2 separate regions of the Homo sapiens genome follow, and region 1 is linked to region 2. A link means that fine-mapping ties the variant in region 2 to the expression of a gene that starts in the linked region. Tissue or cell type: whole blood. Region 2 holds a variant in brackets; the other region holds the start of a gene. All regions are shown on one strand. Distances are from middle to middle.

The links. PIP is the estimated chance that this variant, and not a neighbour inherited with it, causes the effect.
Region 1: it holds the start of PALD1, and the variant in region 2 is fine-mapped to the expression of PALD1 in whole blood (TOPMed, PIP above 0.99).

Annotation. Positions count from the first base shown.
Region 1 is chr10:70,475,326-70,483,502 of GRCh38, reverse strand. It overlaps PALD1 (phosphatase domain containing paladin 1), which reads right to left and starts at 4,736. Exons shown (of 20, transcript NM_014431.3): 1 at 4,444-4,736. RefSeq lists enhancers at 81-628, 2,122-2,763, 2,941-3,120, 2,764-3,406, 6,951-7,030 and silencers at 4,401-4,850, 5,051-5,120.
Region 2 is chr10:70,509,149-70,517,325 of GRCh38, reverse strand. The region is part of intron 1 of PALD1 (phosphatase domain containing paladin 1); the gene reads right to left. Among named protein-coding and RNA genes, the nearest start is that of PALD1, 34 kb to the right of the region's middle. RefSeq lists enhancers at 2,815-3,349, 3,432-3,481, 3,350-3,885. The variant T/A (reference allele first, on the strand shown) is at 3,990.

The DNA of each region.
Region 1 (8,177 bases), 34 kb after region 2:
TCCTCTCTCCTTGGGGAATTTCTGAAAGCCCCAGCTCCCTGGGAGCCCAAAGCATTGGCAGTGACACACCCAGTTCCCAAAGATGTTCTCTACTGCCTTCCATGGGTGTGCAGATGACCCAGACACCCCACCTGCCTCTCTCATCAGTGCCCCAGCTTCAGCCCAGGCAGGGGCACCCCTTAAAGCCAAAGTCAGCCCACATGCCAGTTATGGGAAATACACAAAACGCTTCACAAGGGCTGTCACACCTCTGCCACGCTGCTCTTTCTGCTGGGGAAGCCTTGCCCTCCTCCTTTGCAAACTCCTGGCCATCCCTCAAAGCCCACGTGAAGTATCACACACACCCCAGGCCAGCCATTCCCTCCCTCAGGCTCCAACCATAACTAGCACAGACCCCATCACAGAACCAGACATGGTGTCTGCATGTACCTCACTCACCTCCTGGCAGGGACAGAGTTTAATCTACCTTCGGAGCCCCTGCACCTCATACTGAACCCAGGGCCAAGAAAGCTCAGGAACCCACATCAAGATGCCACGCTGGTCCCTTCCCACCAACTGGTCCTGTGCAAGCATCCTGGCCTCTGCTGAGAGAATAACATCGTGGTAATAACATAAGCACCTAATGTTTACTGAGTACTTCCTAGGAGCCAGACAGCCTCGGAGGCTCTCTGCGATTACCTCCTTTCATCCTTGTGACATTCTCATAAGGGAGTTGCTATCCTTAACCCTGTTACACAAGGGACTTGAGGCACAGAGAGGTTAAGTTTCTTGCCCTGGGCCACATGGCTAATGAGGGAGGGAGCAGAAATTCAGACCCTGGTAGTTTCTTTCCAGAGCCAGTGTTCTTAATCACAACAGGTCTATTTGCAGGTAGGAAGATGGTCGAGGCAGATGTGTCAGGAAAAGCCCTGAGTGGAAAAGGAACTCAGGGATTATAAAGGCCAGTGCTTCCAGACCTTCTCTTTCCCCGGGTCCCAGCCAAAGGCCTCGGAAGACAAACAGAGCCTCCTCCCAGACTAAGCCTGCTGCTCCCAGGCTCAATCCTGTGCTGAGCACCAGTTACAGGAAACATAAAAAGTCCATCTGCAAGTGCCTTGGCCCAAGACAGGGGCAGCACATGGCTGGGCTGCCCTCTGGGAAACGAAAGCCATGATTTGGGACTATTCTTAGCAAACACTGGCTCCCCTCCCAGAGGCCCAGCAGTCAGCAGGCCCAAGCTTCCATACGCCCGCCCAGCCTGCCATTTCCTGACCCCGTGTATGGAGGTCCCACAGGGCTAAGGAGGGACTAGTGGGCACCGACTGAGGACAAAGCCCTCCAGCTTTCACAGGAGAGGTGCCTGGCCCACCCAGCCTGCTCCAGACCTCACCCAGAGGCCCAGGGCCATGCACCTGGCTGCTGAGGAAGCCCTGCAGAGTCCTGGCCACAGGGGATGGCTCATAATCAAAGGCCCCCACCGCCACATCAACTGAGCACTCACTCCATGCCATGCACTGGGCCACATGCTTTGCACTGATTTTCTCCCACTGAACCCACAAGGAGGTAGAGGTTACTGACCCCACTCTAAAGATGAGGAAACCAATACATTAATTGACTTGCTGGAGGTTGCATGGTGCATTAGTATCAAAGCATATCTAGAATCTGGGCTGTCTCTCAGGTGCCAGGTTGGGCAGAGGAGACCTGAGCATAGCCAGGTGGGGGACCCCTTCCCTGTGCAAGCCCACGGCTTAGCAGAGAAGGAGCCCGCCCCAGAGGGCAGTGGCTCTCATCACAGACGCAGCTACATGTGTGCTCTCTCTCTCACCTGGGGGATCCCTGTCAAAGACCCGCAGGCTTGGGTTCAGAAGGAGAATCCCCAGACAGTTCCTCTCCTATTCTGGTAGGAAAGGAACAGTTGGAGCACCCTACCCAGGCCACACAGCCTCACTTCAGGAAGCCTCTGGAGATCCAGGGAAGATGAGAATCAAAATTCAAAGAGCACCTGCTGGCACTTAAGGCACAAACACAGCCTTGTAATGCAGAGGTGGAGAGGCCAAATGACTCTGAGTAAAACACAGGAGACTGAGCTTTTTGGGGTCCTCAAACCCCAAAGTGAGAGTCTAGAAATAAGCTCCACCACAGAGCACCTGTACCATCACCACCCCAAACAGGACAACTTCCGGGCACTGTGCCACGCAGGGAAACAGTGATAACCAGGCAATGCACGCCTCGGCCTACCTCTCAGAACCCACCTGTGTCTGGTTCCTGGCCTCTGCTGTCCGCTGGCTCTGGCAAGCATATGTGTCTGTGCCCCCCAGGAGCTCACAGCCAACTCCATTCTGCCCAGGCACTTGAGCGGCTTCCCTGTGGCTCCGAGTCTTTTGTCTGGGAATGTCGGTTCCCATCCCCGTCTGTGCTCTGCTGGGTCTACCTATATGTCTGTCCACTTACATGTCTGCCTCCCATGTGGGGAGATTCAGATCCCAGCAATGGTGTATTTCTATGTACGTGTCTGCAGCCCATACGTGGCCCACGCTGATGGGTTCATGTATGTCTGTCCCCGCACATGTCTGTGTCCCTGGGTTGTTTGCTCACCCCCACCATCCTCCTGTGTCTGTCCTCAAGTATATATGTATCCAGCTCCTCTACGTCTCTGCCCACACAGATGTAAACCTGAGCACACACACGCACTCACGTCTCTGCCCACACGGGGCATCCCCCACAGGTGCCTGGGTAACCCAGGTCTGTGCACCACCTGTTTGGAGGCAGGCAAGTGTGTTCACACAAGTTCTCACAGTGCCAGCCAAGGGCTTCGGGTGAGCTCAGCAACTCCCACTCCCAGAACTGCACCCAAGGCCACGAGCATGAGCACACTGCCACCTCCACGAAGTGCTCCAGAAAAACAGAAACCTGCCAGGGACAATGAGGGAGGGGGCAGGGCCCCAGATACAGCAGAGCCTCACAGAAGTGAGGTCAGAGCTGTGCCAGGAACCACCCACCTCAAGCCACCTGGGCCCTACTGTGCCCACCCCCAACACTGGCCAGGAAAGGGAGGGGGGTGCATGCACCACCTGGGGTCTGTCTGCACTCATAGGAAACTGGCCCAGTGCCTGCCAGCCTCCCGACCTACCCCAACCCCCCGCGACAGAGGCTCTTCAGAAAGGAAGTGAGGACTTCCTCCTGCTTACCTCTGAACCTCCTACAAGGCTGGCTCTAGACCCCAAACCCCAGGAGCCACAGGGCAACTAGGAGTGTCCTGTGCTCAGCCCAAGCCAAGAAACCAAATGGGTTATTTCAGAAATCCACCAGCAGGAAACAAACAAACCTGGGAGTGGGTGGGGATGAGTGCAGGAGAACCTCCTCAGCGCCCCTGCTGCTCCCTGCCCTTGGAGCAAGGTAATAAGGAAGGGCGGGCATGGAGCTGGAACATTTCAGCACATTTGCTTGCTTGCATGGAACTGGATCTCTGCTGCCCTGGCACTCTCGCAGCCTACATTACTCACATAGCAATTAATGGTGTGTAGCCTCTTGGCTTTCCACTATTACCAGTTCAGGACTGGTATTGAAACCCTGTATCGGGGAACTTTGTGTGTTTATGTCCTGTCTTGCCCCCAGGGGCTGAGCCTCCTGAGGACAGAATCCTCCAAATCCTCCTCCATCCACACATTCCAGGGGCACGGCCCAGTGCCCTTCCTGGCATTTAAGAGGTGCTCGGCCACTGGGTTCAGGTTACTCTACCCAGAAGCCAAGGAGTTGGTTCCTGGGCCTCTGGCTGGGAGAGTAGAGATGCCCAGAAGATTCCCTGGGCCATGAAGCTTTACTCCCATCTCTGACAACCCAAGAGAAAGGGCTCCAACCATCCCGGCCACCTTCAGGAGCCGGGTCTCCCATAGGCCACTCTCTCTCTGACAGGTTACTGCCCCTTCAGGAAAACCCTCTGAAACTGAAAAACGTACTCTCCTTGGAGACCCGGGCCTACAGAGGAAGAGGGCCAGACTGGGCCAAGAATCAAAGCCTGTGCCCGCTGAGACTTCTGGACTCGTCCTGGGTCTGAGGGCCTCACGCCCCCTAGAGATGAGTCCCAGGACCCCATCTCGGTCATGAAGCGGCTTCCCTCTCCCCAATCTCCCCCTAACTTCGCGGGAAACCCTAGCTCCTGGCCATGCTCCCAGGTCTGGCAATGAAAAGTGGAATTGTCACCAGGCCATGCCTACACCAAACCCAGGGAACTCGGGAGAGGGGGTAGCCCAGGGTCCAACACACACAACCACCCAGCAACTGCTCCCTGTGAGTCCCTCTTGCCTCCCAGGGACCAATCCTGAGCGGGTGTGGGGTGAAGGCCCAGGACCTCACCTCTCCAAAGGATGGGGAGTTGGTGTCTGGAGCAGCCTCGGGCTGGGGGGTGCCCGGGGGATTCCAGATTTGCCCTCCCCTCGCCAGCCCCAGGGCAGGACACTTCGGTACCTGCCAGCCCGCGGCTCCGGGGGGCATCCGTGCTCCTGCGGCCGGCGTGCTGCGCCCGAACTGCGGGCGCCGAGTCAGGCAGCGACGGGGCGCGCCCGGCGCGCGCTCTGGCTCCAGCTCGCTCCTCCCAACTTCGCCAGCCCATGCGGGGGCAGAGGTGGCTCCGGAGGTGGGCAGGCCAGGCGGACCCGGCGAGGCCACGCGAGAGGGAGCCCGTGCTCACCGGCGACGGGACCTGCGCGCCCCGGCCCGTGCGCGCCGCGCTGCTCCCCAGCGCCCCGCTACCCAACGCCGAGGGGCGGACCCGACCCGGCCGCCAATCACCGCGCCCGCCCCCGCCCGGACCGCGAGTCCCGGCCCCACCGCGAGGGGCGGGGGGCTCAGATTTAAAGACACACTCAGCCCAGCCGCAGCCCCCGGGCGGGAGGAACGCGGGCGCCACGTTCCCCGGCTGCGCTTCCTCCCTCCGCCCGCCCACCCTCCGCGAGGAGGAAAAGTTTGGGGCGGGGGAGACTGCCCGGGAAGCCAGTTCCTCTTCCCTCGTCGCTAGTGCGGCTCCTTCTGGAAGACACCCAAACCCGACATCCAGCCTCCTGGCTGCGAGAGGCAGCAGCGCTCTGGGCGCCACACCCCGTCCCGGACGCCGGCTACCCGCGACACCCGCTGGCCCGGCTTCCCTCGCCCCCCTCTGCTTTACAGCCAGGCCGAGCCTCGGCGGGACCGAGCCCAGCATCCGGGCTCCGGGCCGGCCTCGCTGTGCAGTGCGGCCGGAGCTGGATGATGGTGCGCTCTGCACTTTTGCCTCCCACGTGTCGAAGGGGAGCCCCTAAACAGCAGACGGTCCCCCCAAGCAGGGGCTTCTCCCACGCCCCGGGGTCCTAAGGAAACGCGCCCCTCGGCCCCCAGAGGTGAGAGGGGAACAGCAGAGCAGAGCTTTGGATGGAGAGGGGTCCCTCCGCCCCCACCCATCATGCGGCTCCAGGCAGTGACCCGCACCATAGGCCTGCCCCCCCCACCACTCCTCACCCCACACGCGCGGACTAGCACTAGGCGGCAGCCAGCCCGGCCCACTCCGACGGCCCCGCACGCCCCCGCGAGCACGTGGGTGAACGCACCCACGTGCGTGCGTTCACTCTTCGCTGTGCTTCCTCGCGGAGAGATAGGCTTTGTTGTGGTTGGTGAGTCACTTCCTCCCTCTCGCTGCTCCACACTCGGGAAATCCTTTTTTCTCACCTGTTACCACCTGCCTCACCCCCATTCAGGACTGGAGCTGGATTTCGGCGAGCTGGGGTTGCCCCAGGATGCAGGCAGTGTAGGCCCCACCTCTGTCAGGCTGGAGAGCGCTGGGCTGGGAGAGGGGAACACATTCCCCATGACCCCTAAGAATAACTGAAGACAAGAGAAATCACTCATTGTGGTGGTCTCACCATGTCCCTAGCACCTAGCTCTTAAGTGCCTCGCGAAGTTATAAGGTCGGTACTTTTCTGATCCCTATTTTAACAAATGAGGAAACAGGCCCAGGGAAGACTTGTCCTCAGCTCCATACCTGCTCCTGCGCCACCCAAGGTGTGTGAAAAGGACAGCAGCAGAGAAAATCCCATAGTGGCCTTGGGAAACAGACCTGACCTTCAGAGTTCAGCAGAGCTAGGCTCAAAGTGGCTCACAATTTACTGGCTGTGTGGTCTGGGAAAAGTGACGTAAGTTCTCAGATTCCCAACTTCTACATCCATAAGATGGCTTCATCCTCCTTCAAAGAGGTATTTGAGAAGCCAGTGAGCTGGGCAAGTAATGTCCAGGCATCGTGTGTGGCACACTTTAGGACTCCATCCTGGGCCACAGTTTCCTTCCTTCTTCCTCTTGCCACAGCCCCATATCCCATCCCACCAGCTGTCAGACTCCCCAGCTGAAGCCTGCCATCCTGAGGATGCATTCCAGGATAATGTCCTCTTCTAGGCCAGGACTAAGGTAGGAGCAACATGTGTGTGAGCAGGTGCAAAATATACATTTACATACATGTGCATGTGTATGCACACATGTATACACATACATGCACATATATGTATACAAATATATACATAAACATGCATACCTATAGGGATGCATGCACACATATATACATACAGAAACATAGCACATACACATATGCACATAATACACACATACAAATACACACACTTTGCTTCCCCTCACCCTCCCTGCCCAGCAGATGCTGGGATCCACGGCGGTGTGCCTCTCTAGCTCCCAGAGAACAAAAGCTATGTCCTACCTGTGCCTGACCTGTCTTTTGGCCCACAGCACAGTGCCTGGCACGTCTCCATACATTCATTTGTACTCACCACACACACAGTAGGTGTTCTTGTTGAACCAAGCAGAAAAGCCCAGGACAAAGATGTTCTCAGGACAGCCTGCAGTCACAACCCTTCTGGATCTAACAGTTAGCCTCAGGGTTCAGCTGGTAGGTAGGGGGCTGAGGGCTTGGAGGTTCCTCAGGGTCAGGCCACAGACTGCATCCAAACCACAGTGCCCAGCCTCACCAGCCCACCACCAGCCCCCCAGAGGGCCTGCCAAGTCCCTACTCAGAATAGCGAGTCCTGCAGCCCTGGCTGTCTGCTGGCTATGGGGCTAGAAAAGTCCCAACCACAAGAAAGATTCAGTCAGATCTGCCCCACCGTGGGCCTGGGAGGGGAACAAGGACTGAATGTTGAAGGAGAGAAGGCCACAGAGCAGCCCTGGGTACACCCAAGAGAAGGCATCCTGCTCTCTCCCCAGCCCCAGGCAGAACGAAAGAATCAGTCGAGCCAGCTCTCAGTTGAGCCCATTTGAGCCTCTCAAACTGCAGCAGAAGATTCCTGAGAAATCTGGAAGCTCAGAGCAGAAGCCCAAAATCCCCTGAGAAAAGATTCATGGGTCCCAGAACAGGATCTCAGGAAGGAGAGAGGTCGGGACTGACCCCCACTCACCCAGCACTCCACCAGCACTGCCAGCACCCACATCCCCCACACACAAACGTCCAAGACACCATGTTATCATGCTTGTATTGCTCGTGCGTGAACTCATATTTGCAGGGATCCATGTTTGTGCAAGTGTCTAGTGGGAGTGAGTGTGGCTTTATAAGTGAGCATGTGTGTATGTGTGTGTACGTGTAGCACACACACAAAGCACCTGCAACCGTCCAAAACCAGACAAGCTGCTGCTGCAAAGAATATGAGTAACCTGTTACTCACGCCCCGACAGACTCGCCTGTGGCCATCCACTGCCCCATCAGCCCAAGCAAGGTGCTGGTGCTCTTGGGAGAGAGCTCCCAAGTTCAGTTCCTGGGCAAAAACATGAGCTGTGGGAACCCCAGATTCCCTCCAGGGAACACTCAAGCCAAAAATGATTTCCTGACAGGCACAAATGACTCGCTGGAAAGCAGAGGAGCTGGGTTCAAACCAGCAAAGATGAATCTTGATCAAAGATGGGAAACAGGCCCTTGCTGCTCTTCTCTACTCCCCACTCTTCCCTGACATCTGCCACAGCTGAGGGACACTGGACCTGAGGAGTGGACAACATCAGGACATGGGCTGGCCTTGCTCCTTGTGACCACCTTACTGCCAAGAACAGGGATCATGTGCACCCTTCAGGGTGGGAGTCTTGTGGCCTGTGATTTCGCCCTGAGCCCAGTGGTCTCTGAGCCTCAGGCAAACTCATCCGTGACGCCTGAATCCCAACACAGACGGATCCCCTGTCTGCCC
Region 2 (8,177 bases):
GTAATTTCATTGTATGAACGCTACCTCAGTAAATCTGTTAAAAACAAGAGGTGTCCCCATCCTTTGTCCCACAATGTTCTCCTCTCGTGACACCTTCCCACTGAGCTCCGTCATTCATCAGCTGTGCAACCTTGGCCCCATAACCTCTCTGGACCTCTGCTGCCACTTCTGTGAAATGGGAACAACAGTAGCACCTCCTTCATGGGGTAGTTGCGAAAGTTAAATAATATCTTGTGGGTAAAGACCTCAGAAAAGGGCCTGGCCAATAAAGGTAAGGTGATTCTAGGTGTTTGGGGGACACTGGCCCATTGGCCTCTGAAGCTGGGCTGTGTGCCTTGTGATCACTGAGCCCTGGAAATCTGGCTGGTCCACACTAGGACATGCTGCAAGTGTAACATACATACCGGATTCTGAAGACTAGCTACAAAAAAAAAAATACAGTAAAATATCTCATTAACAATGTATATTGGGGCTGGGCACAGTGGCTTATGTCCATAATAGCACATTGAGAGGTCGAGTCAGGAGGATTGCTTGAGCCCAGGAATTTGAGACCAGCCTGGGCAACACAGAAACGCTGTCTCTGCCAAAGATAGAAAGAAAAAAAAATGGCCAGGTGTGGTGGTGCATGCCTGTAGTAGCAGCAACTTAGAAGACTGAGACAGGAGGATCGCTTGAGCCCAGGAGGTCAAGGCTACAGTGAACCATGATCGAACTACTGCACTCCAGCCTGGACAAGAGTGAGACTCTGTCTCAAAAAATAAAAAACTAAGAACCAAAACATAGTTTATGTTGATTACATCTCAAAATGATAATCTTTTGATATACTGAGTTAAATAATATATGTTATTAAAACTAAGTTCACTCATTCATCTGTATTTGAAGGCAGCTGTTTAAAGTGCCACACAAGGCTGGGAGCGATAGCTCACACCTGTAAGAGGCTGAGGTGGGCGGATCACTTGAGGTCAGGAATTCAAGACCAGCCTGACCAACATGGAAAAACTGTGCCTTTTTTATAAAAATACAAAAATTAGCCAGGCGTGGTGGTTGCACGCCTGTAGTCCCAGCTATTCGGGAGGCTGAGGCAGGAGGATCGCTGGAACCCAGAAGGCAGAGGTTGCAATGAGCTGAGATCGCACCACTGCACTCCAGCCTGGGCAACAGAACGAGACTCCATCTCAAAAAAATAAAAATAAAGTGCCACACGTGGCTCCTGTGAGATTTCTACTGGGTGGCACTGCTCTGAGTCTTAAGTCCTCTGTGACCCTGAGGACACCTCTTGCTCAGCTCAGGGTACTCAGGGCTGAGCCCAGTGCCTGTGGCAGGTAAGAGTTTAATAAATATCTGTTAGAGGCATGCAAAAGCCCCAGAAAGTTGGTGTTTTCATTCCCATTGAACAAAAAGAAAAGCGAGGGCTTGCAGGAGTGGCAACTCTTCACATCCTGACCCCTGGCTGGGGACACAGGGCTTAGGCTCTGTGAATCGTGGGCTCTGGGCAGGACACCAGCTGAACCCCACTTCTATCATGCATTAGTCACATTATCTTGGGTTCATGGCTTGATTTCCCCAAACTGTTTCCCCAACTGTAAACTGAGGACCACCGGTACCTCCCCTGCTGGACCGTATAAAGATGAAATCAGTGAATGTGTGCAGAGCAACACCTGGATGGCCCGACACACAGCACAGCGAGGGCTCCAACTCCTCATCTGCCCTGACCTCATCCCCCCACACCATGGCTGACCCTGCACTGAACTCCCAGCAACTGCCAGCTGCCACAGACGTGAACCTTCAGGACCAGGACTAGAACCAGGGGCCTCGCCCAGGCGCCATCTGTGAATGGCCAGCAGTCCCTGGCTCTCAACCAAGGCAGCCAGCAGGGCAGAGCCAGGCTGGGCTGGGCCACAGCAGCCACCCTCCTTAACAACCACGATCATCACATCACTCTCCTCATTCTGCTTTGTCTGGTAAGCCATTCGGGATAGGTTCCCATCTGCTCTTGGCCTTCCTCAAGAACCAGGAGGCCCCAGCTCTGTTCTGGGCCCTCGCACAAGTCCTCCACCCCTGGAAGAACAGGTGCCCAGCCTGAGTCAGCCCAGTTCTCTCCAACCCTCTGCCCCCACCAGCTTTGGGCCACTAGCACCTGACTGACCTATCTCCTTCCCTTTTGAATCTGATCCAAGAGGGCAGGGCAGAGTCTCTCCATCACTTTACCTCCCCACCCTGTCTGGTTACTGATGATGGGCCAAGGCTGGTTCTCAACAAGTAGGCACCAAAGACTGGGGGCCATCTACTTCAACAGCAATGGTACTTATTCCTGAGTAGTGAGCTGCAGGGTGATATTTATTTTCTTCTGTTTTGCTCATCCATCGCTTCTAAACATCTTACAATGAACATGATTACCCTAGGAACATTTTCTTTTTAAGTTTAGTTATTTGTATAAGTTTCCAAGTTGGGCAAAGGTCACAACTCTTCACCCAGAGAACCCTCACCCCACCCACCTCAAAGCACCCCATGCTCCTCCGGCCCCGTGTCCTTAACCCTGGCCCTCTGCCCAGGCGCACTCTGCCCACTGCAGCGCGTGTTCCCCTGACAATAATTCCACTTGTACAGTCTGGTAGGATTTTTGTGTCTTTGCTACAGCCCTCAAGAGAGCCGAGAATTAGGATCCCCAGTTTACAGAAGAGGTGACGGCTGAGCAAAGTCAAAGACATGAACCTCCCAGGTGACAGGCTTCATGGAGGCAGAGGCTCCTGGCCCCGACTCCTTCATCTCTTGGGGGTCCCACAGACCCATCCTTCATGACCTCTGCCCCTCAGCCTCTTTCTCTTTAAAACTAGGAAGAGTCCAATCTAAATGTTAAAATAAAGCTGTCTGGGGGCTGGGATCACAGGAACCCTTCACCTGCTAAATTATGTGTTTCTCAAGTGTTTTTATATTTTTCTAAACTAGAAAAAAAATAGTTTAAAAGTTAAAAACAGAAATTAGAGGACGTGTGGAAATGCAGTCCTTTGCTCTGCAGGCGGGGCTGCCACTGCGGGGGGCAGCCCTGACTTCCAGCCTTCAGCCTGCAATCCCTGGGGAGCCTTTGAAGCAAGCGCCAAGTCCTGGCAGGAAGGAGGCCTCATGGCTGCCACACACTGAGATGACAAGTCAAGGTGGGCATGCAGCAGGAAGTGGGCAAAGGTGGACAGAATGACCGGACGGCCCGCAGAGGCACTGTGGCACATGGAGGCCAGCACCCAGGGCCAGCAGAGTGTGGGAATGCAAATCAGGTCGGCCCACTGAGTGGAGAGAAGCTGTGGAGGGATGGGGAAGTCCCTGCCCGCCCTCAGAGAGCAGGGGGAAGCCTCCCTCTCAGCTCACCTGGCAGGCGGGTTCTCGGGATGACAAAGCCTGCCCCGCAGCCAGCAGCGGTCCCTGGGTCACCGGGTGTGGGCCAGCCATCACGGGCCTGCAGGTTCCTGGAATTCAGGACCTTTTCCAGCACCCCTAGTTGCCTGCCTCCAAGTGGGTCTGCTCTGCCGCTCTGTCTATGGGATCTCAGATTGGGGAGCAGGGAAAGGCTGTAATGAGCATTTTGAGGACAACTGGGAAAATTTGAGGATGGAGTATATGCTGGATAAATAAGTTAACATCCTCAGATTGTGGCTAAAAGGAGAATGCCCTTGTTCTTAGGAAATACAGGCTGAAGCGTTTGGGGGTAATGCCTCTTGATGTCTGACGTTCATGATTTAGAGAGAGAAGTAAATGGAACAAATCTTACCTGGTGTTGGCAGACAGGAGTTTACTTACTGCACTCTTCCTTTTTTTTGATCTTTTGAGATGGATTCTCACTGTGTCGCCCAGGCTGGAGGGCAGTGGTGCAATCTCGGCTCACTGCAACCTCCGCCTCCCGGATTCAAGCAATTCCTGCCTCAGCCTCCCAAGTAGCTGGGACTACAGGCATGTGCCACCACTCCTGGCTAATTTTTTAATTATTTATTTATTTATTT[T/A]TTTTGCAGAGATGGGGTTTCACCATGTTGGCCAGGCTGGTCTCGAACTCCTAACCTCAAATGATGCACCCACCTCGGCCTCCCAAAGTGGTGAGATTACAGGCATAAGCCACCGCACCCGGCGAACTCTTTCAATTTGTCTGTAGGTTTAAAATTTTTCCAAATAAAAAAATGGGGGTTAAAAAATTTCAAAAGTAAAACTGAAAAAAGTGTTAAGCTGTCTTATGAGAAGTGCTCCATGGATTCCTCCTGGTTCTGCCCTTGAGGACCCAGAGGATTCATCCTCACTGGAGGGAGACGGCTTGTGGCCCACAGGCAAAAAGGGGTCGGTCTCAGGAGCAATCTGTATGATCATCATAGTTTTGTATTTTCCACTCTAATTAGCCACCCGTAGTTTGAAATCAATGAATTTCAAATAAAAATCTAGATCTCCGGCTTCTCTTGATGAATTAAAAAATGTGCAACAACAAGGTGCCACTGGAGGAGGTGAGCAGGGGGTGGGCTTGGGCAGGGATCCCTGCAGTCCACCAGGCTGGACTTCCACACTGTACTTGGGCCCTGCCCTGGCCTCTTGTGGGCTACAAGGAGACAGTGCTCCCAGTCTAACCCTGTCCTGGGGTGGGCCTTCCACTGCTTACCGTGTTCACTTGTGTCCCAGAACCTGCAGAGCTTCCTTACTTTTCCCAAGCCTTTCAGTCCCCGCTTCTTGGCCACTGTCCTATGAATGAGCTTGGCCCTTGCCCTCGGGCCTCAGCAGCCCAGACACAGACCACACTTTCTTGGCATGCTCTGACCACACTAAGAAGAGGTCGCTGCCTCCCTAATTCTAACCACTGCCACTGAGCTGTCTGCTAACACCTCTAAAGCCTTTCTCCCTCGGGCTCAGCCCCTGCTTCCCCCTTCCTGGCCTACAGCATGTGGCTTTCTGGTCCCAAGGCAGGACTGATGTCCCCATTGGGAAATCTCTCTGTGAGAGACTCAAGCCCTGAAGCTCTGGTCCAGCTTTTCAGCCTGGAAATGGCCCAGATTTAATCAAAAATCTCACAATGCCTTCATCCCCCAGAAGCAGGGACAGCCAGCTGAGCACACAGCTGCCCAGAGCCAAGACTGCATTCCCCACCTCCCTTGCAGCGACCTGGGGCCATGTGACTAACAGGCTAACAGTACTGCTATGGTTTGAATGGCCCCTCCAAAACTCATGTTGGAATTTAATTGCCATTATAATAGTATTAAGAGGCCTTTAAGAGGTGTGATTAGGCCATGAGGGCTCTGTCCTCACGGTGGATTCAATGCCTTTTTTTTTTCTCTTTTGAGACGGAGTCTCGCTCTGTCTCCAGGCTGGAGTGCAATGGCGCGATCTCAGCTCACTGCAACCTCCGCCTCCCAGGTTCAAGTGATTCTTCTGCCTCAGCCTCCCGAGTAGCTGGGACTACAGGCACCCGCCACCACACCCGGCTAATTTTTGTATTTTTAGTAGAGATGGGGTTTCACCATGTTGGCCAGGCTGGTCTCGAACTCCTGACCTCATGATCCACCTGCCTCGGCCTCCCAAAGTGCTGGGATTACAGGCGTGAGCCACCACGCCCCGCCCTCAATGCCTTTTAAAATTGGGATTTGGGGAGTGAGTTTTATCTGTTTCACATGCTCACCTGCCCTTCTGCCTTCTGCCATAAGAGGACACAGCAAGAAGGCCTGCACCAGATGCCAAGCAGATGTCAGTGCTGTGCTCTTAGACCTCCCAGCCTCCAGAATTGTAAGTCAAATAAATTTCTGTTCATTATAAATTACCCAGTCCATGATATTCTGTGATAGCAGCAGAAAATGGACTAAGACAGGGACATAAGCGTCAGTATAAGATGCCAAGTTCTGGAATCCTTCCTTACAAGACCCCTTTCCTCCCTGTCTCGATCCTGCTGCCTGGACACAGATATGATGACTTAAGTTTCACAGCCATCTTGAACCATGAGCCCTTGAAGCCACAGCCTGGGAACAGTGCGGTGGACATCAAGTTCCCCAAGGAAACTATAGGGTAGAGCTACTATACCAGACCTGGTCTGCAAAACTCTGGGCTTAGACAGGACGAAGAAATAAACTTCCAAGTTGTGTAAACCACTGTTATTTGGCTTTTCCTATTACTTGCAGCCAAATCTAATCCTGATTAATGCACTCTGTTATTTTTAGGTTTGACCCTCAGTGATCACATGCCACATGGGAACAGGGGAGAATTTATTTCTTTCTCCTCTTGCAGGAGAATGTCAAGTTTCCCTACTGGTGAAAGCCAGGCTACACTGTGGGCTGGCAGCTCCACGTTTGGGCGGAGTGACTCCAGGATCCTGGGAGCCCAGGATCCAAGTGTGTGGTTCACAGAACGTAATCCCTGCCCACCAGGGCCTGCAGGATAGCTAAGGATACACACACGAGATGCACACCGTTAGAGCACCATCCACTAACTGCGAGACAGCATGGTGAAGCAGCTTTCCCTGAGTCAGCTGCAGAGATTTCGAAAGTCCCAAGCCGCTAAATGTTTGTTCCACCTTATAGATAGAGACCTGGCCTCTACTGCTCCAAAATGGCAGAGAAAGACCACAAGCCTCTCTGCATCTGGAGGGCAGTCTCTCCTTTTCCCTCTAGGGAGCCTTCTGAGACAAGGAAGTCCCTGGGAAGCGAGAAGGTGTTACCTGGATGGGAGGGACCCTGCCCTGTTGGTTCTTTCAGGAAGGAGCAGAGGGAGGGGAGTGTAACAATTAGGAAGGAGCTGGTCAACTCACGGAAAGGCAATGCCTTCTTCTGAAAAAGGCTGGCTCCTGTCTATCTCTAGGTTCCATGCAGCCAGGTGTTGGGGGCAAATGCCTTAGGGAGGGGGGCCCAGGGAGAATAGGGTTAAGAGTATCTGGAATGCTCATGTGCTCACTTCCAGGAAGTCAGGCATTTGGACATTTCAAGGTCAGCAGAAACTCAGAGTGGCCTAAGACCTCACCCAGTGCTCTGCCCTGCTGACACTCTCCTGGCTGCCACCAGGGACTAGACCCAGAGTGACAGTGGGAAAGCACACTTCAGCCCCACTTCCAACCTCCAGCAATCTCCCAGGTACCTAAAGCATCATTTCAAGGAGCTGGGGAGAACCATGACCTGGATTCTGGGCATCTGTCTCCATCCCACCCACCACTGTGGCCTCCAGTCTAAACTCCTTTGCCCAGCACTCAAGTACCCCCTTAGGCACCCTCATCTCAACACCATGAATTTGCCCCACACATCCCCAATATTTTAGGCAAATCCAGATCCCAGCTGCCCCGTAGTGTTGAACAGGAAAAAAAAGCCCCACTAGAAGTTTTCCTCCAGCCCTGACTTTCCAAGAGTTCGGCACAGCCCACGCTTATTTCCATCTGGACGAGATAGATGGGTGGTTTTCAGACATTTCAGCGGCTGAATTCTTTGTGCAAAATCAATGTTTCCTGAAAGCCCTGTGTGTCCAACAGCCAGGAGCAGAGCTGGTGTACTGGCTGCACGCTCAGAAGAAGCTGCAGCGCTTCCTGCCCCCAGACCCAACCTGTGCCCTCCTAGAGAGAAGTTCCAGAGCTGCCCCACAGAGCTGCTCAAGGCCCTCAAGGTCCTCCCAGGACCTAAGGCCCTTCCCTGCCCTCACCCTTGTGGGTCCCACAACCAGGCACGCCAGGCCACCCTCACCCCCTTCAGTACATCCATCAACATCCAGTGGAAATGAATGGGCCTCCTGCTCCAAGCCAAGCAGCACTCAGCCTGTGCTCCACCCAGCCTGGCCCTGACCCCGGTGGCCTGGTGTTTCCTAAGTACATGCCTCACCTCCCCACTCTGGGTCTGATGTTCCTTCTGTGGGGCAGCCCTACTAACAGGATTCAGCCCACAATAGTTGTAGATTCCAAATGCCACTTTACCAAGTGCATTTCACATTGGAACTTCAGGACAACCTTATGAGGAAGGGAGAAGCACAGGGCAACTGTCCCATCAAGCAGGTGAAAAAACAGGCCAGAGAGTTCTCTACAGTACAAGACAGAGCCCAGCCTCCGTTTCCGCAGCTGGCTCTTCCTGCACTTCACCTGCCACTCCCTCATTCCTCCACTGAAGCCACCCCAGCTTTCCCAACGGACACTAGGAAGCTTAGAGCAGGGACCGGCAGGGGGCAAAGAACACGTGGGACCCAGGGGGAGAGTA